2 separate regions of the Homo sapiens genome follow, and region 1 is linked to region 2. Evidence: fine-mapped expression QTL. Tissue or cell type: whole blood. Region 2 holds a variant in brackets; the other region holds the start of a gene. All regions are shown on one strand. Distances are between the middles of the regions. Region 1 holds the start of PSMB5 (proteasome 20S subunit beta 5). Region 2 overlaps HAUS4 (HAUS augmin like complex subunit 4).

The links. PIP is the estimated chance that this variant, and not a neighbour inherited with it, causes the effect. A credible set is the group of variants that fine-mapping cannot tell apart.
Region 1: PSMB5 starts here. The variant in region 2 is the best candidate, but not a certain one, in a credible set for the expression of PSMB5 in whole blood (TOPMed, PIP 0.56).

The regions. Positions count from the first base shown.
Region 1 is chr14:23,033,434-23,036,450 of GRCh38, reverse strand. PSMB5 (proteasome 20S subunit beta 5) reads left to right here and starts at 1,551. Exons shown (of 3, transcript NM_002797.5): 1 at 1,551-1,767; 2 at 2,777-3,017. The coding sequence starts at 1,570. RefSeq lists enhancers at 1,077-1,371, 1,156-1,825, 626-1,825.
Region 2 is chr14:22,947,474-22,949,973 of GRCh38, reverse strand. HAUS4 (HAUS augmin like complex subunit 4) reads left to right here. Exons shown (of 10, transcript NM_001166269.2): 7 at 1,961-2,106; 8 at 2,243-2,373. All of the region lies in intron 2 of PRMT5-DT (PRMT5 divergent transcript), which reads right to left. Among named protein-coding and RNA genes, the nearest start is that of MIR4707, 8.3 kb to the left of the region's middle. The variant T/C (reference allele first, on the strand shown) is at 1,003.

The DNA.
Region 1 (3,017 bases), 86 kb before region 2:
AGACCAGCGTGGCCAATATGGTGAAACCCCATCTCTACTAAAAATACAAAAATTAGCCAGGCGTGAGGCCGGGCACGGTGGCTCATGCCTGTAATCCCAGCACTTTGGGAGGCCGAGGTGGGTGGATCACGAGGTCAGGAGATCAAGACCATCCTGGCTAACACGGTGAAACCCCGTCTCTACTAAACACACACACACACACACACACACACACACACACACACACACACACAAATTAGCCTGTTGTGGAGGCAGGCGCCTGTAATCCCAGCTACTCGGGAGGCTGAGGCAGGAGAATCGCTTGAACCTGGGAAGCAGAGGTTGCAGTGAGCAGAGATCGTGCCACTGTGTTCCAGCCTGGGGGACACAGCAAGACTTGGTCTCAAAAAACAAACAAACAAACAAACAAAAACAATACAGCATATGCAGAGTCTGCTGGGGGAAAGATGGGGCCGAACTGGGCATCAGAGGAAAGTGGAATTTCGGTGTTGATAGATGTTGCTGCTAGAATCCAACAAGGAAGGCCAGAGACTGACTTCATAGAACCATAAAGCAGGAGGCAACATTTCATACATATGCACACTTCCCGGTTTGTTATAGTTCCCAAAAGATTTGAAAAATGAAGGTGGGTGGAGGGAGGAAGAGGCAATGAAATATAGTATGTTCCTGAATAAAAGGCATCATCTTAGCAAGTTGAAGTTAGAGAATCTCTTGGTACATATTTATGCAGTCTCAACCGTCCTCCCGTCTCTGAGATGGTAAATTACTACTGACACTTATTCAGGTCTGAACTGAGAATCTAGTTTGTGGATTAACTGGACCCTTTGCTTTTTCTTCTTCCATCTGCCTTTTAGGCAATTCATTACTTATTCGAATTTCCACCAGAAGGTAGGAGTCAAGAGAACGAATATTGGATATTAATAACCGGTTACTGTTAAAGAAGGGTTGCTGTATGGCGACTGACAACAAGAGGTATAGCACTTTTATTTTGTTGCGTTGTTTTACCACTAATTGCTGTGGTTTAACTAATATAGGGAAATGGCCTCAGAATGGATCATTATTTTACCCAATTTTAGAAGGTGCCCTTAAACAAGATGGCAACCTCAGGCGCGTTAACAAGGTGCTGAAGCAGCAGCGATGTAACCTGTTGCTTGGACACCAGGCTGGAGTGGGAGGACTCACCGCTAAGGGTTCAGAACCGATTTTCAACCAGTCACGCCCTTCTCAAAGATGGCCGACCTCACTTCCCTTACGCAACATGGACGTTTTCAGTCACTTCCTGTGATTTTGAGGTTATTCTGATCCAGGACTACTTGCATGACCAAAGCCAAGATGGCAGGTACGTCCTTTTAGAATTTAAGGTTAGTGAAGCCATCTATTTCCCCGACCCCCTTCAGTGAAAATGGTCTTTCGCATCTGGCTCTTCTTTTTGGAGGCGTGCTTGCCAGCAGTCAAAATGGCTCCATTCCGGAATAGATTTAATAGGAAGTGAAGCTGTGACGGCGAGGCGTTGCCCGGCCTATCTTTGCTAGGCGTTCTCAGAATTAGTTCTTTCTGCCCACACTAGACATGGCGCTTGCCAGCGTGTTGGAGAGACCGCTACCGGTGAACCAGCGCGGGTTTTTCGGACTTGGGGGTCGTGCAGATCTGCTGGATCTAGGTCCAGGGAGTCTCAGTGATGGTCTGAGCCTGGCCGCGCCAGGCTGGGGTGTCCCAGAAGAGCCAGGAATCGAAATGCTTCATGGAACAACCACCCTGGCCTTCAAGGTGTGGAGCCAGCCCCCTTGCCAGGCTGAGTACTGAACGCCCGCGACTTGCCTGGCCTCCCAGCCTGACCGGAGTTTGCGGTGGCCTTGGCCACCAACCCAGGCGGAGGCTGGGTCCTCTCGTTCGGACCGCAGCAGTTTTGCTGTCTCATTGGCCCAGGAGGCCCCTGTCTTTGCTCTGGTTGGAAAGGGTGGCGGTGGGGCCGGGGGTAAGTCGGGGGAGGAAGGTGAGGCCTCTTGGGTTGATTCCTAGGCGACCCCAGGTTGCTGCTGTTCAGGATCTTCTAGCTGGGAAAGGCCGCAACAACAATGAATCTTGGCCGAGGGAAGGCTATTGTAAACGTTTACCAAAGTTTTGGAAACTGGGCGGCCCCTCAAGGCAGGGGTAACTGAAACTGGCATGAAGGGGAAGCGTGGTGAGGGTAAGCATTGTACTAAGAATCAGACATTTGGGGTTCCTTGCCCAGCTCTGCAATAACTAGCTCTAGATTGAGAAATCATTTGATTTCATTGAACCTGTTTCCTCATCTATAAAATGATTTGTTTTTTTTTTTTTTTTGAAACAGGGCTTTTCGCTGTCGCTCAGGCTGGAGTGCAGTGGCTCCAGCGCCTCAGCCTCCAGAGTAGCTGACACTATAGGCACACACCACCACGACAGGCTAAGTTTTTTTACTTTTTGTAGAGATGGATCTCCCTGTGTTGCCCAGGCTGGTCTCCAGCACCTGGCCTCAAGCGGTCCTCCCGCCTTGGTCTCCCAAAATGCCTGGGTTACAGGAGTGAGCCACCACGCCCATCCTATAAAATGAATTTAATATGGGTTATATCCATGTCAAGGGATTGATGTGAAGCTCGGGTGACATTAATATATGGTGAAGTATAGAAGTATACTGTGAAGTATAAAAGGACGGAGAAAGAGATGTGCTGGGTTTGGATTGATGCAAAAAGAAGTATGTAGGAGTGTTTTTGTGGTCTTATGTGGCCTGTTTTGTGTTTTCCTCTGATCTTAACAGTTCCGCCATGGAGTCATAGTTGCAGCTGACTCCAGGGCTACAGCGGGTGCTTACATTGCCTCCCAGACGGTGAAGAAGGTGATAGAGATCAACCCATACCTGCTAGGCACCATGGCTGGGGGCGCAGCGGATTGCAGCTTCTGGGAACGGCTGTTGGCTCGGCAATGTCGAATCTATGAGCTTCGAAATAAGGAACGCATCTCTGTAGCAGCTGCCTCCAAACTGCTTGCCAACATGGTGT
Region 2 (2,500 bases):
TATTTTTAGTAGAGATGGGGTTTCTCCATGTTGATTAGGCTGGTCTGGAACTCCCAACCTCAGGTGATCCGCCTGCCTCGGCATCCCAAAGTGCTGGGATTACAGGTGTGAGCCACCACACCCGGCCAAAACAAGGACCTTTGTAAGGACTCTTTTTATTCAGCAAGATACTGAGTGGGAGTGTCCTCCTGCTGCAGGGAAGGATGAGTTCTCTCAGGAGGTTCAGAATGGTTTAGGGAGGAAAGTTCAGACTCATAGAACACCTTATACTCTCTGTATAAGCTTGGAGGGTATAATACCATTTATGTCAAGCTGTTTATAATAATGTGTTTCTAGACGTAGTATTCATATTTCAGCTTTTACTTGCTTCTGTGTAATGATTTTCTTATTTGAGTCTGACCACCCTGAATGAATGTGTATCTCTTTTTTTTTTTTTTTTTTTTTTGAGACGAAGTCTCGCTCTGTCCCCCAGGCTGGAGTGCAGTGGCGCAGTCTCACCTCACTGCAAACTCCACCTCCTAGGTTCACGCCATTCTCCTGCCTCAGCCTCCCGAGTAGCTGGGACTACAGGTGCCCGCCACCACGCCTGGCTAATTTTTTGTATTTTTAGTAGAGACGGGGTTTCACCGTGTTAGCCAGGATGGTCTCAGTCTCCTGACCTCATGATCTACCCACCTTGGCCTCCCAAAGTGCTGGGATTACAGGCGTGAGCCACTGTGCCTGGCCCTGAATGTGTATCATTTTTACGAAAATAATAAAGCTTAACACCTGAGTCTGAACTTTCCTCCCTAAACCATTTCTTTTTTTTTTTTTTTTGAGACGGAGTTTCATTCTTGTCGCCCAGGCTGGAGTGCAATGGCGTGATCTCAGCTCACTGCAACCTTCGCCTCCGAGGTTCAAGCAATTCTCCTGCCTCAGCCTCCCAAGTAGCTGGGATTACAGGCGCCTGCCACCCTGCCCAGCTAATTTTTTTGTATTTTTAGTAGAGACAGGTTTTCACCA[T/C]GTTGGCCAGGATGGTCTCAAACTCCTGACCTCAGGTGATCTGCCCGCCTTGGCCTCCCAAAGTGCTGGGATTACAGGCATGAGCTACCACACTTGGTCTCCTTAAACCATTTCTATGACTTAAGAATTAAGGTCCGGGCCGGGCGCGGTGGCTTACGCCTGTAATACCATCACTTTGGGAGGCCGAGGCAGGTGGATCATGAGGTCAGGCGTTCGAGACCAACCTGGCCAATATAGTGAAACCCCGTCTCTACTAAAAATACAAAAAATTAGCTGGGTGTAGTGGCGGGTGCCTGTAATCCCAGCTACTTGGGAGGCTGAGGCAGGAGAATTGGTTGAACCTGGGAGGTGGAGGTTGCAGTGAGCTGAGATCGCGCCACTGCACTCCGGCCGAGGTGACAGTGAGAGACTCCGTCTCAAAAAAATAAAAAGAATTAAGGTCCAAATCCGGAATCAAAGGTAAGAGTGAAGATAATTTATTTAATAATTATGAGAACCAGATGCCCTCCCCCCCCCCGCTTTTTTTTTTTTAAAAACTCTGTCACCCAGACTGGAGTGCAGTGGTACAATCACACCTCACTGCAGCCTCGACCTTCTGGGCTCAAGTGATCCTCTCACCTCAGCCTCTCAAGTAGCTGGCACTACAGGCGCATAGTATGCCTAACTAATATTTTAGAATTTTTTTTATAGAGACAGAGTCTCACTATGTTGCCCAAGCCGGTCTTGAACTCTTGGGCTCAAGCAATCCTCCTGCCTTGGCCTCCCAAAGTGCTAGGATTGCAGGCGTAAGCCACCATGCTCAGCCCAGAATGGGGCCATTTTTAATAGATTATTAGAAGAAAACCTGTCATAAGGCAGGATTTGTGGGTCTAGATACAGGATAGGGGCACTGGAAGGTTGCTTTACAGGGATTGTAGCGATTAGGGTTTTCCTGTCAGTCCTCTGCCCCTTTGCTCAGATGCTGACAGTGAAACCGTGAAGGCAGCAAAGGTGTGGAAACTCGCAGAGGTCCTGGTGGGTGAGCAGCAGCAGTGCCAGGATGCCAAGAGCCAGCAGAAGGAGCAGATGTTGCTGCTGGAGAAGAAGAGTGCTGCTTACTCCCAGGTTTATCAGGGCATGGGACAGCCCCTTTCCTTTATCCTGACCCCAGGAGCACTTTTGGGGAAGACAAAGATTCCTGATCTACCCTCCTTTCTACTATCTTTATTTATGCCCTCTTCTTCCTCCATCTTGGGCTCAGGTGCTTCTCCGCTGCCTCACTTTGCTGCAGAGGCTTCTTCAAGAACACCGGCTGAAGACTCAATCCGAGCTAGACCGCATCAATGCCCAGTACCTGGAAGTCAAGTGCGGTGCTATGATCCTTAAGCTGAGGTGAGCTGTGACCCCTGTGGATCTTAAGGGATTCTGTCTCACGTTATCAGCCCTCTATCCCTTACCCTAATCTCTTTCCTCTCCCTTATCCTAGCGCCTTGTGGGTATCCAGTAAATGTCACATAGC